Linked DNA regions of Homo sapiens. The protein of the gene in region 2 purifies or fractionates together with the protein of the main gene of each other region. This does not show direct contact. Each region holds a gene or a part of one and is shown on either strand. Other genes may lie near its edges.

Region 1 (8,635 bases), on a different chromosome or scaffold from region 2:
TTGCTTTTATTTTTAGCCATAAGTTGTTTAACTTATACTCATAATGGTTGCTTTAGCACCATAACATAAGGTTATAAATTACTGAGGTGCATGGTAATTCTGCAAATTTGTCTCTAAAGTGGTCTTTGTCACATCTGAGAGGCAGCCATCTTCTGTTGAGTTTTATAAAGACCACCAAGATGTCTCTGATACCCTAAAACATCTTTAAAAAGAGGACACACAGTGGTAATTTAACTTGACATTTTCTTTATTGTGAATAAAAATTCCTTACCCTGCTAATTAATTATTTGAGGAATACTTAAAATTAGTAGGTTGAAATCTTTACTAATCATTTAGAAACAAAACATAGTATGTACTTTAAAAATAATAAATTGCATTTTTAGATGCAAAATCAAAGAATTCCAAATATCATATTATGCAAACTTTTTGTATTGTTTTGATGCTATATCATAGCCTCATTTCACTGTTTTAAAATAAATTTGAGCTTCAAAATAAACTTTTACTTTCCTTCTACACAATTAATTGAACAGTGGACATCACTTGCTAAATGGAAAGTAAGCACTGCCAGCATTGTCTGTCTTTGGTGTTTTTTTTTTTACCTATTTATTAGAACCATAGTATTTCTTCATTATTAATTTGTATGAACTATTTTTTAAGATATTAACTCTTTTCTCCTATATTTTTGTTTTCATTTAAACATTGTTGTGACATATTGAAATGTTTATCTTTACTTTTCATTTTTTTTAAGTTAGTTTTTTGTTTGTTTTTTAGAGATGGGGCCTTGCTATTTTGCCCAGGCTGGATTGTTGGGCTCAAGCAATCTTGAGCCTCAGCCTTCAAATAGCTGAGACTACAGGCATGTAACACCATATCTGCTTTTTTCCTTTGTGGTTTCTTCTATTCCTTTTGAGATCAGTTTCCTTCTGTTATGGGCTGAATTGTGTCCCCTCAAAACTCATGTTAAAGTCCTCGCCTTCAGTATCTCAGACTATAACTATAGTTGGAGATAGGGTCTTTAAAGAGGTAATTAATTTAAAATGAGATAATATGACTGGTGTGCTTATAAAAAGACAAGATGAGACACAGACAGACATAGAGGGAGGACCACGTGAAGACACGGAGAAGATGACGATCTATAAGCCAAGAAGAGAGGCCTCTGAAGATCGGTTTTATTCCCTGCTGACACCTTGATCTATGACTTCTAGACTCCAAGACTGTGAGAAAATAAATTTCTGTTGTTGAAAAGCCTCCCAGTGTGTACTACTTTGCTATGGCAGCCCTAGCAAACTAATACTATATCCTCCAACCTCCAAAATTCTGTAAAATGCTATACAATTCTATTTTCTTCTGTCTTTTCTATGGCTTTATTTTTCAGTTGACTTCTAAAATTTATTTGTATTTTTTTCTTGAATCTAAATTGATATATATTTCCCCCAAATTGCTGAACAGCTAACCCATCTACATGTATTGTCTATTTTAATGTGGGATTATTTTAGCCTCAGAGATATAATTGTCTGGAACACAGGGAAAACTTTTTCAGATATTGCTGCAGTAAATAACTTCTCTTCTTAAGAAGCACCTCTTCTCAGGGATTTAATTCTTTTTGTTTCACAATTATTTGTGAACTCTTTCCTGGAAAACCACAGTGGCTCATGTCTGTAATCCCAGAACTTTGGGAGGCTGAGGTGGGCGGACCACTCGAGCCCAGGAGTTCAATACCAGCCTGGGCAACATGGCAAAACTCCATCTCTACAAAAAAAAAAAAAAAGAAAGAAAGAAAAAGAAAAACCACAAGAATCAGGAAAGTAGCTGTATCTGAACTTATCTGTATTTCCCCAGGCAGAGCTCTATGCACATTAAGGAAGGACCGATGAAAGTGAGTCAAAGAATGTCAGCTCTTAAATCCTGGGTCACTATGGGTCAGTAGTAGTCTGTGGGGCCCCGAGGGGCAGGGGTGGTTCCTGAGGCCTTTTCACAGCTGTCTGCAATTTTGAAACTATTTTCATAACACTAAGTTGTGATTTGCCATTTCACTCTGCTGACATTTGCACTGATGGTACCGAAACAATGGTGGTTAATACTGCTAGTGCTTAAGCATAAATCAAAATAGTGGCTCCAAACTGTACTAGTAGACACCATATTCTATATAACATGCACTGATAGGAAACAAAAACCATTTCATATAAAAATGTTCTTAACGAAGCAGCAACATTGTTAATATTATCTTTTTTTCTTTTTTCTTTCTTCTGATTCAGCCCTCATTTATTACATCTTAACTCTTGAATATGTCTTTTTAAATGTTCTATGTGAGGACATAAGAAGTATGTATAAAATCCTTCTACTGAATACTGAAATACATTAGTTGTCTCAAGGAAAAGCACTTGTGGGATTGAGCTGCTAGCTGAACTTCCTGCTTTTTTCATGGGACACTTTTTATTTGAAGGAATTACTCACAAATTATGATTATTCAGACTTAGATATCTGGCATTTACTTTCTTGTGAATTCAAGAAGGGAACCTATCAGTTCAAGGAAAACAATCGACATTTCTTGCCAATGTGTAAATTTCAAACTTTCAAGCACAAATTTGAATTTTGGAAAATATGTATTCACCATCTAAGTTTGACAGATCTCCCATACTCGGGACTTTACTGATGAGATCCATGGTGATACTAACAGATGGAATTTTTTGATGTTGTGTAACAAAGTCACATTTCACATTGCAACTAACCTTTCAAAAAACTACTACTTGTTGAGTTTGGACCAAATTTTCTTCATATACATGAACAAAAACAACATATAACAATAGATTGAATGCAGTAGCAGATTTGAAGCTCCTCCTGTCTACTATTAAAATGGACAGAAAATAGATTTGCGCACAGTACCAGTTATTTTATTTTTTTATTTTGGAAAATATTTTTTTCATTAAGATATTTGTCATAGGTTTTTAAAAAACACTAATTGTTTTCAGTTCTAATGTCTAATATGGTAAAAATCAATAGGTAACTCATATAAACAAATGGTCTTTATACTTTCCAAAGCAATCTACAGATTCAGTGCAATTCCCATCAAAATATCATTACTACTTTTCACAGAACTAAAAAAAAAATTCTAAAATTCATATGGAACCAAAAGACAGCCTGAATAGCCAAAGCAATAATAAGCAAAAAGAACAAATCTGGAGGCATCACGTTACCACACTTCAAATTATACTGCAAGGCAAGTTACCAAAACAGCATGGTACAGGTAAAATAAATAAATAAATAAATAAAGACACATAGACCAATGGAACAGAATAGAGAACCCAGAAATAAAGCCAAGTACTTACAGTCAACTGATCTTCAACAAAGCATACAAAAACATAAATTGGGAAAAGGGCGCCCTATTCAATAAATGGTGCTGGGAAAACTAGTTTAGCCACAGGTAGAAGAATGAAACTGGATTCCCATCTCTCACCTTATACAAAAATCAACTCAAGATGAATCAAAGACTTAAATCTAAGACCTGAAACCACAAAAATTTTAGAAGATAACATTGGAAAAACTCTTTTGGACATTAGCCAAATGCAACAAAAACAAAAATAAATAAATGGGACCTAAATAAACTAAAAAGCTTCTGCACAGCAAAAGAAATAATCAGTAAACAGCCCATAGAGTAAAAGAAAATATTTTCAAACTGTGCATCTGATAAAGGACTTGTACCTAGAATCTACAAGGAACTCAAACAAATCAGCTAGAAAAAAACAATCCCATCAAAAAGTGGGCAAAGGACATTTTTCAAAAGAAGATATACAAATAGCCAACAAACATGAAAAGATGCTCAACATCACTAAATCACCAGGGAAATGCAAATTAAAACCACAGTGAGATACCACCTTACTCCTGCAATAATGGCCATGAGGCAGGCGGATCACGAGGTCAGGAGTTCGAGACCAGCCTGGCCAACATGGCAAAACCCTGTTTCTACTAAAAATACAAAAATCAGCCAGGCGTGGTGGCGGGCACCTGTAATCCCAGCTACTCGGGAGGCTGAGGCAGGAGAATCACTTGAACCCGGGAGCCGGAGGTTGCAGTGAGCCGAGATAGTGCCATTGCACTCCAGACTGGGGGACAAGAGCAAGACTCTGTCTCAAAAAAAAAAAAATAAACATAAAAAATAAAATTTAGAAAATATACGTTGGTGTCGATATGGTGAAAAGGGAACACTTTTGCACTGCTTGGGGGATGTAAATTAATACCACCACTATGGAAAACAGTATAAAGTTTCCTTAAATAAATAAATAAAGGTGGAGCTACCATTCAATCCAGCAATCCCACTACTGGGTATCTACCCAAAGGAAAAAGACACATATACACGCATGTTTATAGCAGCATAAGTCGCAATTGCAAAGATATGGGGCCAACCTAAGTGCCCATTGACTAACGAGTGGATAAAGAAAATGTAGTATATATACACCATTGAATACTACTCAGCCATAAAAAGGAACGAAATAATATCTTTTGGCAGCAACTTGGATGGAACTGGAGGCCATTATTCTAAGTGAAGTAACTTAGGAATAGAAAACCAAATACTGCATGTTCAGTTATGAGGATGCAAAGACATACAGAGCGATATAATGGATTCTGGGAACTCCAGGTAGGGAGGAGATTGGGAGCGGGGTGAGGGATAAAATACTACATATTGGGTACAGTGTACACTGGTGGGTGACGGGTACACTAAAATCTCGGAATTCGCCACTCAAGAGCTCATCCATGTAACCAAAACCCGCCTGTACACCCAAAACTATTGAAATAAAAAAAACATTAAAAATGAGAGAAAACCCACAAAAAGCAAATGGTCTTTGTGCTCCTCAACGGTTTTTAAGAGTCTTGTAAATAAGTCCTAAGGCCAAAAGTCTAAGAACCGCTGCTGTAAGCTAGCACCTATAACGGTGGAACCTAATTCTTTGTAGGACCCTTTCCAATGTCAGAGTGAAATCGGTCAGAATCTAGCAGGCTTATCTAGTTTTTTCTACAGCGATAAGGAAAGAAGTCCAGTATTAGCCCTGGGCCGCGGTGAGGGTGGAGCCAAGACTGCGTCTGGGGTCTCTGTGGAAACCGCCCTGTATGGGTCTCCCGGACCTCGCCTCTTTTGTTCCTCTCCGCCTCTGATTGGAACACGCTGTCAGTGGGCGGTGCTTCGGGAAAGGGGCGGGCCTTCATCTTCTTCCAGGAGCCCCTCGCAGCAGCGTACTGACGTCACGCAGGACGCCACTGCCCTGTCGCCCCGCCTGTGCAGCCCAGGACCTAGGCGCGGTAGCTGGGGCTGGCTTTTGAGGGGCGCGGGCAGCCTTCTGACTGGGTCGGAGGCCTGCGGGCCCGAAGCCTCTGTCCCTCCTGTTCTTGTCCGGCGCTGCTTAGCCCCTCCGCGTAGTCATCATGGATCTGATTTTAAACCGAATGGATTATCTGCAGGTAAACCCAAGGGATAGGGCGGGCGCCGCGCTGGGCAAGCCCAGCACCCGGAGAGGATTCCTTCCTTCCACTGACGAAAGTCTCGGTCGCCAGGAGCTGGTGCGGAGGCGAAGGAGCCGGGCTGGGTGCCGACCTCTCAGCACCCCGCCTTTGGGCAGCTCCCTTTCGTCTGTGACGGTCCGAGGGGACCGGGGAAAAGCGGCACAAGCCCCCACGGTACTGGCTTCTGCCGGGTCCTGAGGATGCTCTGAAAATGTGACACTGTCTCATCCCGGATTCCCCCCAGGGCCCTTCTCCTCCTCCCTAGCCGTGGCTGCCTGAGGGCCTCTAATCCTCAATCTCCATCTCTACCCGGACCCTTTTGCGGAGCACCAGGCACTTGTTTCTTACTGTGAGCTGTACCGCACCAGGCAGATCATGGTAAAAGCAATGAAAACCGGGCCGGGGGCAGTGGCTCACGCCTGTTATCCCAGCACTTTGGGAGGCCGAGGCGGGCGGATCACCTAAGGTCAGCAGTTCGAGACCAGCCTAGCCTACATGGTTAAACCTCTTCTCTACAAAAAGTACAAAAATTAGCCCGGTGTGGTGGCGGGCGCCTGTAATCCCAGGTACTCGGGAGGTTAAGGCAGGAGAATCGCTTGAACTCGGGAGGCGGAGGCTGCAGTGAGCTGACATCATGCCACTGCACTCCAGCTGGGGCGACAGAGCGAGACTGTCTCGAAAGGGGGAAAAAAAGCAATGACAACAGTTTAATGTGCATCTAGCTTATTCTAAGAATTTAGCATACCTACCAACATATTTAATCCTCATAAGAATTTGCAAAGTAGACAATATTATAAATGAGGATCTAAGGGGTTAGAGAAGGCAAGTAATTTGCTTAATAGCTAAAAATTAGGGAGTGGCTATTTGAATCAAAGTCTCGGACTCCAGAACTGGTGTATTTTTGTTACACTACACTGCCTTTCAGAATTTCTTTCAGACCTAAAATTCTCTCTACCCCAATTCCTCATCATATTTTTAGGCCACCTCATTTTAGTTAATGGTACAAATGTTTGCCCAGTCAATTTTCTAGGGGTTTATGCTATGTACTTCCATATCCAACTGGTCACCACATCTTACTGCTTTTAACTCCCAAATATCTCTTGAATCTGTCCCATATCTTCCATCTCTATTACCCTCATTTGGGTTCTCATCTTCTCTTGCTTGAATAATTGAAATAACCTCCAAATTGGGCTCCTGAACTCCAGCTTCATCTCCCTCCAAGCCATCCTTCACATCACTTGCTAGATTGATGTTTCAGAAATACAAATCTAAGCAGATGACTTTAATACAATTTTCTGGAATGCAGAATAAAGTCATTTATACTATATGAACGTTTTATCATGATGTGTTGTTTTCACCAATTCCTCTCCCATTGGTCCCATCCTCTTCTCCTAACTATACACCAGCAGTGACAGTTCCCTGCTGCTTTCATCCTCTGTATTTTTTTGTAAAATAATCTTCACCTGTTAGATTGGATGTTATGGCCATTATCATATTTGGTATTTTAGCATAAATCTTCTTTTTTTTTTTTTTTTTTTTTTTTTTTTTTTTGAAACAGGGTCTTGTTCTGTCACGCAGCCAGTCTGGAGTACAGTGGCATGATCATGACTCACCACAGCCTCAAATTCCTGGACTCAAGTTATCCTCCTGCCTCAGCCTTCCAAGTAGTTGGGCCTGCAGGCATGCACCACCATGCCTAGCTAATTTTTTATTTTTTGTAGAGACAGAGTCTCCCTGTGTTGCCTAGATGGTGTTGAACACCTGGGCTCAAGTGATCCTCCCACTTCAGCCTCCCAAAGTGCTGAGATTACAGGCATGAGCCACTGCATGTGGTCTTCCGTTGCATTTTTAATAACTATAATCTATTTTCAAAGTTCTTGAATCACTTTGCTGAACAACTGTATGCAGTTGGAAAAGAAGGCTTCTAGAGATATTTTTTAGTAAAGCATCTTGCCAGTCATCTTACACAACTATTTTTGGCTTGACAACTTTATAGGATAAATTTTACTATTTTGGTTGTTTCCTATATGTATTCTGACTAATATGACATATCTCATTAGAAAATAAATTAATTACTGATAATAGTTATATCACTAATTTCAGTTTAACAAAAAGGTTCACTATAACTTATTTTAATCTCTGTAATAACTTCAAATTAAATTCACTAGGCATCTGGTGTTTTTCTTTAGGTGGGAGTAACATCTCAGAAGACTATGAAGCTAATTCCTGCCTCAAGACACAGAGCTACACAAAAGGTACTGTATAGATTCTGATTTCTCCACTATTCCCTAGCAGTGACAGAGGAGAGGCTCCTATTTCCTTCTTTATTATTAAGTTATTCTCTTAAAAATGCTAATGTTAAAATGGAAATGAATTTTTTAATTTGAACAGAAACTGGAATACCAAGGGACATTTATAGACAATAATTTTCTTGGACATTAAAATTATTATATACCATTAGTAAACAGTGTAGGCAAACTTAAAAACCATACTCCATTTTTTCTGTGTGTCAGATGTGTATATGAAAAAAGAAATATAAAGCAGAATAAGGTATCAAGAAAATGTTCTCTTTAAACTTTCTCATATTTTAAAGTCATTAAATATTTTGATGTTAAACTGTACTTAACTAACAATATTGATTATGTTTAAAGAAATGTTGATCCTATGATTTCCACAAAACAATTATAGTTTCTTAGTAGACTAGCCAAATATTTTAATAGCTGCAAAAAAATACTTTATCCTGATATATAAACATTTTAGCAAGATGAATCAACAATTACACATAGTACTAGAAGTCCTAGCCAGAGCAATTATACAAGAAAAAGAAATAAAGTGCATCCAGATTGGAAAGGAGAGTCAAATTATCTCTGTTTGCCGATGACATGATCCTATATATAGAAAAACCTAAAGACTCTACCAAAAAACTCTTAGAACTGACAAATGAATTCAGTAAAGTTGCAGGATACAAAATTAATATACTGAAATTAGTAGTGTTTCTATACACAACAAACTAGCTGAAAAAGAAATCAAGAACACAATCCCAATTATAATAGATAAAAGATAAAATACTTAGGAATAAATTAACCAAGGAAATGAAAGACCTCTATAAAAAAAACTATAAAACACTGATGAAAGAAATTAA
Region 2 (7,755 bases):
TGAGCGTGTAGTACTAGGGCATTCGTTGTAGTACTATCCGTAGTGGCAAAACGCTGGAAGCAAATTAAATGCCCATTAATAGGGTAATTGATGACTTCAGATATTTCCATACTGTGGAATATTATGCAGTCATTAAAAAGAATGTTACAACTAATTGCTTTTCCTCTCAGAAGCCCCTCTCTCTCACTAGAGAAAGCTGTTCTCCTTTCTTTCTTCTGCCTATTAAACCTCCATTCCTAAACTCAGAAAGAAAAAAAAAAAAAGAGAATGTTACGACTAATTGACTTGGAGGGACTTCCATGGTGTACATTTAAATAAAAGGTAGATGTGAAGTGGGGTATATTATGTGATCTTAATTTCATAACACAAAGGAAAACATATAGATCCGTAGATAAGGATATATGGATATGGAGGAGAGAAAAGGAAAAGACTCAAAACTCACAGAATTTTTGAAGAAATGTATAGCTAAAAATCTAAGAAGGCTACAGTCAAGGCCTTGAGGCCAGAAGACACCCCATCAAAACTGAGTAAAACTAGCCCAGTGTGGGACGCAGAAATTCTAGTATGCTACCAAAATTACTTACGGATTGCTACCAGTTCCTTAGAAGGAAAACTGAGGACTAATATTTGTATTTTCAGTATAGTTTAGAATTCTTAAAAAATGAGCAAACAGGCTGTACTTGGTGGCTCATGCCTGTAATGCCAGGACTTGTGGAAACTGAGGTGAGAGGATAACTTGAGTCCAGAGGTTTGAGACCAGTCTGGGCAACATGTTGGAGCCCCATTTCTACAAAAAACACAAAAATTAGCCAGACGTGGTGGCACGCGCCTGTCTTCCCAGCTACTGGGGAGGATCATCTGAGCCTGGGGGAAGTTGAGGCTCCAGTGAGCCATGATCATGCCACTGGACTCCAGCAGGGGCAGAGTGAGACTTTGTCTGAAAAAAACAAAAAATGAATGAGCAACTAACTCTGGCTTTCATGATTTGTGCTTATAAATCTTTTTATTTATTTATTTATTTATTTATTTATTTATTTATTTATTTATTTTGAGACGGAGTCTTGCTCTGTCGCCCAGGCTGGAGCGCAGTGGCGCGATCTCGGCTCACTGCAACCTCCGCCTCCCGGGTTCACGCCATTCTCCAGCCTGAGCCTCCGGAGTAGCTGGGACTACAGGCGCCTGCCACCACGCCCAGCTAATTTTTTGTATTTTTAGTAGAGACGGGGTTTCACCGTGTTAGCCAGGATGGTTTCAATCTCCTGACCTTGTGATCCGCCCGACTCAGCCTCCCAAAGTGCTGGGATTACAGGCGAGCCACTGTACCCAGCCTATAAATTTTTTTTATAATGCCCTGATTCCCATTATTTGATGTATTTGGATAAATATGTCATCCTGTAAATTGAAGGATTAAACTGATAAGAGCAGAAAACAGAAATTAGTACACTAGTTGATCTGGCTCAGATATAGTGCCTATGTATCAGGTGCTCCATGAATATTTGTTGGATGAATAAATGATCATAAAACTATATAAAAATGAAGAAATAACAGAATAAAATAATTTGTTCTATATAAATCCTATGAATGAGATTGAGTGGGCTAATAGAATCCTTTCCATCTCAAAATGTTCTGGAAAGTCTTGAGTAAAAGACTCATCAAAAAAATAATTCTGCTTTGTGCAGAAAGAAGGGTTGCTGACCTTTGAAGGTGCTTTTTGAGTCTTTAACATTCTTTAGTAGTATATTCCCCAAAGTTAAGAAATTCTAGTTAGATTTTAAAAAATTGAGTTAACATTTAAAAAACAGTTTTGTTGAGGTATAATACACGTACCATAAAATTTACTCAATTTAAGTACAAAGTTTGATCAGTTTTAGTAAATTTATATAGTTGCACAGCTGTCATCAGAGGCTGCTTTTAAAACATGTCCATCACTCCAGAAGGGTTCCTGTGTCAATGGAATTGCTGGGTTATATTGTTTAAGTATTTGTTTAAAAAAACAGAAACAAATCTGCCTAACTTCTGCAGGCTATATACGAGTTAACATTTCCATGAGCAATGCATGAGGGTTGTGATTTTTCCACATCCCTGTCAACACTTGGTTTGTCAGTTTGTTTTTATTTAGCTGTTGTAGTGGATGGGTAGTGATGGTGTATGGTGGTTTTAATTTGTATTTCCTTCATGAATAATGATATTGAAGATTTTTTATATGTTTATTTTCCACCCGTATCTCTTTGGTGAAATGTCTTTATAAATTTTTGTGAATTTTTAAATCAAGATCATTAACCAAATGAGCCCCTCATTTGGGCTCAAGTGATCCTTCCACCTCAACCTCCCGAGTAGCTGGGACCACAGGTGCAGGCCACGCTTGGCTAATTTTTGTATATTTTGTAGAGGCGGGGTTTTGCCATGTTGCCCAGGCTGGTCTTAAACTCCTGAACTCAAGCAATTGGCCTGCCTCACATAAGTATTCTCTTTTATTTTGAGGATTAATTTTTGTTGTTGTGAAATATATCCTACCTGTAAAAGAGTGCTTAAAATGTCGTATGTGTGCTTTAAAGGATAATATAATGGAAACTTGTGTTCCTACTGCCCAGGTTAGGAAATGGGTTATTAATAACTTTGAAACCTCCTAAATGCCTCTCTCCTACTGCATTTTCCTTCCTCCACATCAGATGTAGTGTTTCTTCAATTTTATATTAATATTTTGTACTTTTTATAGTTTTACCATATATGTTTATATATATCCTTAATATATTAGTTTTTAAAATTTGTTATTAACCTTCAGTTTATTCATTATTTCAACACTGTATAGTATCTTATTGTAGTAAAGTATGTCAATTAACTTATCCATTCCACTAGATGGAGATCGGGATTATTTCTGGTTTTTAGTTATTAAAAACAATGCTGCTGCTGGGTGCAGTGGCTTACGCCTGTAATCCTAGCACTTTGGGAGGCCGAGGCTGCGGATCATGAGGTCAAGAGATCGAGATCATCCTGGCCAACATGGTGCAACTCCGTCTCTACTAAAAATACAAAAATTAGCAGGATGCGGTGCTGCGCGCCTGTAGTCCCTGCTACTCGGGAGGCTGAGGCGGGAGAATCACTTGAACCCAGGAGGCGGAGGTTGCAGTGAGCCGAGATTGTGCCACTGCACTTCAGCTTGGCAGAGCGAGACTTCGTCTCAAAAAAAAAAAAAAAAAAAGCTGCTATAAATATGGCCAAGACTAAGGAAAGGTAAGTGAGGTGCTTAGGGTTCACATTTTATGGAGTAAGAGTAAGTACCTTCTTAAGGTTTATACCCTAGGTTCTTCACATGCCTCACTTTAGTCCTAGCCCTGAGCATTATTATGTAGGTCTTCTGATGCAATATCTAAGAGTTTCTCTAAGGTATACCTAGAAATAGATTGCTAGGTAATGGAGTAACTTTATTACTTACAGGAAACTATATGGTGGTTGTAACAATTTATGCTTCTGCCACCAGTCATGGTGGATATGAAATTATGTCTTAATGTGATAATTTACATTGCAATTTTTTTTTTTTTTTTTTTTTTTTTTTTTGAGACAGAGTCTTGCTCTGTCACCCAGGCTGGAGTGCAGTGGCGTGATCTTGGCTCACTGCAACCTCTGCCTCCTGGGCTCAAGTGATCCTTCCACCTCAGCCTCCCGAGTAGCTGAGACCACAGGCGCAGGCCACACTTGGCTAATTTTTGTATATTCTGTAGAGGCGGGGTTTCGTCATGTTACCCAGGCTGGTCTTAAACTCCTGAACTCAAGCAATCGGCCTGCCTCAGCCTACCGAAGTGCTGGGATTAGAGGTGTGAGCCACCACACCTGGCTGTTTGTTTGTTTTGAGCCTGTTCCTCAGGCTGGAGTGCAGTGGTCCAATCATGGCTTGCTGCAACTCCGCTTCCTGGGCTTAAGAGATCCTCCCACCTCAGCCTTCTGAGTAGCTAGGACTAAGGGCACCTGCCACTATGCCTGGCTAATTTCTAAAGTTTTTTTTATAGAGGCAGAGTCTCGCTGTTTTGCCCAAGCTGTTCTCAAATTTCTAGGCTCGTGTGATCCTCCTGCCTCAGCCTCCCAAAGTGCTGGGATTATAGGTGTGAGCCACCACACCTGGCTGATCTATCTGTCTTAAACTGGAGAATTGCATTTTTTTCTACCTCCTTTCTTTTTTTTAAAAAAACTGAATTTCCATCTGTTACCCCTCCCTTTCTGCTCCTCTTATTTCATGCCTTGGAAGTTATACTTTGCCTTCCTTTAATGAGTACCAAAGAAATTAAAAAATACATGTTTACTGTAAGTCCAGGCCTAAATGTTGCTACTACAGGGACCATCAAATGCTTTACTACCATCTATTGCCATCTGCAAATGTATGCCATTGTTGTTTAGTTTTGTAGTTCTTAATGTATTTTAATTAAACACCACAAATTATGCTTTTTGTTTGTTTTATTCAGTCAGTAGATGCTTAGAATACTTGCTTATTTTACCAATTCCTTTGCTTATTCCACTCCTTTGTTCTGGGATTATTTTTCTTTTTCCTAATATATTTTCATTAAAAGTTTATTTGGTGAGAATCTAAAAACTCTCAAATTCTGAAAGTTTTAAAAATTTGCCTTTGTTGTTGAAAATTAGTTTTGATGGGTGAGAGAATCTAGATCAGGTGTTAGCAAACCTTTTTTTGTAAAGGGCCAGATAGTAAATATTGTGGGCTTTGTGGGCCATAGAGTCTCTCTGACAACTACTCAGCAATGCTGTTGTAGGACAAAAGCAACCATAGACATTATGTAAACATGAGTGTGGGTATGTTCTCACAAATTTTGTTTATAGACACTGAAATTTGACTCAATTTTCATGTGTTAAAAATTATTATTTTTTGAATTTTTTTAACCATATAAAAATGTAAAAATCATTCGTAGCTTGTAGACCAAATAAACAGGATGGATTTGACCTGTGGGCCATAGTTTGCTGACCTCTGGTCTAAATTAACATTCATTTTACTTAGTACCTGACACTGGAGTAATTATTCTTATGATGTCTTATTGTGATATTGTCTTCCATTTTTAATTGTTGAAGAGCCAGCTGTCAGTCTTTTTTGTTTTTCTTTTTCTTCTTCTTTTTTTTTTGAAATGGAGTTTTGCTCTTATCGCCCAAGCTGGAGTGCAGTGGTGTGATCTTGGCCCACTGCAACCTCTGCCTTCTGGGTTCAAGCGATTTTCCTGCCTCAGCCTCCCAAGTAGCTGGGATTACAGGTGCCTGCCACCACACCCAGCTAATTTTTGTATTTTTAGTAGAGATGGGGCTTCACCATGTTGGCCAGGCTGGTGTTGAACTCCTAACCTCAGGTGATCCACCTGCCTTGGCCTCCCAAAGTGCTGCAATTACAGGCATGAGGCACGGCGTCTGGCCTTTCTTTCCTTTTTTTTTTTTTTTGAGACGTAGTCTTGCTCTGTTGCCCAGGCCGGGGGGCGATGGTACGATCTTGGCTCATTGCAACCTCTGCTTCCCAAGTTCAAGCCATTCTCCTGCCTCAGCCTCCCAAGTAGCTGGGACTATAGGCACGTGCCACCATGCCGAGCTAATTTTTGTATATTTAGTAGAGACGGGGTTTCACCATGTTGTCCAGGCTGGTCTTGAACTCCTGACCTCAAGTGATCCTCTCGCCTTGGCCTCTCAAATAACTGTCCTTTCTTTGTTGGTAATCTGGTGATATGTTTTCTTGTTTGGCTGCTTTTAAGAGCTGCTTCTTGTCTCTGGTGCAGTTCGCTATGATGTATCTAAGTATGTATTTATTTTCATTTAACCTGGTCAGGATTTGTTGAGTATCCAGAAACTAAGGATTGGTGTTTCTCATTACATCTGGAAAAATTTGAGCCATTATTTTTGCTTATATTGTGGTATGTCATAGGAAGTTGAGAAAAGAAAAATTCATTTGATGGTTTTCTATGAGGTTATAGTGGAAAATAACTATCTCCCTTTTAGAATTGAGTGCTAGACAGTTTCTGTGTAGATGATCTCATAAGCTTCCTTTTATCAAACAGCGATCACTTTTTTGGTTTGGCTGCTGAGAAGTATGGCATCAAGTATAATACTCATATGAGGTGTTTAAGAACTGAGTATATTTCTTATGCACATTTTACTATATACTATAATTATACATTAAAAATGCACATTGTAAATATTATAAATATGTGTTATACATTGTTAATAGTTTGGATAGCAAAAGTATGACTTGACATTTGTTTTTTAAACCATATTTAAAGTAACTCTATCACAATATGGATTTAATGGATTAATTGCATAATTGGTGAGCTACTGATTATTCTTGTTATTTGGATGCTTCTTTAAGTTAGCAAGTTTATATTGTGGTGCTTCAATATAGACTACTTATTTCATTTCAGAGAACTCAATTTCCTGTATCTACTGAGTCTCAAAAACCCCGGCAGAAAAAAGGTCTGTATGCAGTTTCATGGTATGTGTATGTTTGCACAGACAGATTTCTCTTTTATTTATTTATTTATTTTTTTTTTTGGAGGCAGAGTCTCACTGTCACCCAGGCTGGAGTGCAGTAGCACAATCTTGGCTCACTGCAACCTTTGCCTCTGGGGCTCAAGCAATTCTCCTGCCTCAGCCTCCCGAGTAGCTGGGATTACAGGTGCACGCCACCACACCTGGCTAACTTTTGTGTTTTAGTAGAGATGAGGTTTCACTGTGTTTGCCAGGCTGGTCTCGAACTCCTGACCTCAGGTGATCTGCCCACCTTGGCCTCCCAAAGTGTTGGGATTACAGGCGTGAGCCGCCACGCCTGGCCAGATTTCTCTCTCTTGTTGATTCTTTTATCTATTCTATATTATTTCAAAATGAGTGTTGGGAAAAGAAGTAATAGTCTAAATGTTCTGTCACATCTAGCTTTTATTTAATAGAGTTATTAGATATTAGGAGGTTGGTTTGACCTGGAAATTATTTAAATGGGGTTTGATTATTATGTAAGTGTGTACTAATTTTCTGCTTCTGGAAAAACCACTTTGTGAAGTTCCAGGTATCTTTTTGCTTTGTTGGTTTCTAGTTTAATTCTATTGTGGGTAGAGAACATTCTTTATATGGTTTGTTTTATGGCCCACAATGTGGCCTGTGTTGGTGCATGTCCCATGTACACTTGGAAATAATGTGTATTCTGCTCTTGTAGGATGTAGCATTCTGTAAATGTCAATTAGGTCAAGTTGGTTGATAGTGTTCTGTATATACTTACAATTACAGATATTCATATTCTTACTGATGTAGTTACTGATTGGAAGGGTGATAGAAGAGTGTTGAAGTGTGCAAATGTAATTGTGGATTTGTTTCTACTTTCAGTTCTATCAATTTTTGATTTGTGTATTTTGAAGATCTGTTGTTGGATGCATATACATTTAGGATTGTCTGATTTCTTGGTAAATTGACCCGTTTGTCTTTATATAATATTCCTCTTCAATTTCTGATAATATTCCTTGTTTGAAGTCTACTTTGCCTGATAATATTTTAGTTTTAGTTATTTATTTAGCTATTTTAGTTTTGCTTTGGCCAGTCTTTGAATGGTATCAACATATAATTTTCGTAGAGTAAAATTCCCTTTTTTTAGTACAAATTCTGAGTTTCGACAAATGAAACTAGCCATGTAACCACTAGTAGCACCATAATCAAGTTATAAAAGTTTAATTACTCCCCCAAAAGTCACCTTTACTTTGTAGTAAACCACTTCTTCCATTCCCAATTGCGGGC

Evidence for each region.
Region 1: the proteins of BBS4 (region 2) and BBS7 purify together in Homo sapiens (co-immunoprecipitation; 8 studies listed by BioGRID and IntAct, with this or other methods). This does not show direct contact.

Annotation. Positions count from the first base shown.
Region 1 is NC_000004.12:121,867,094-121,875,728, reverse strand, and holds the start of BBS7 (BBSome complex member BBS7), read left to right. Parts: upstream 1-5,254; 5' UTR 5,255-5,415; coding exon 5,416-5,451; intron 5,452-7,682; coding exon 7,683-7,748; intron 7,749-8,635.
Region 2 is NC_000015.10:72,688,779-72,696,533, forward strand, and holds part of BBS4 (BBSome complex member BBS4), read left to right. Parts: intron 1-6,398; coding exon 6,399-6,450; intron 6,451-7,755.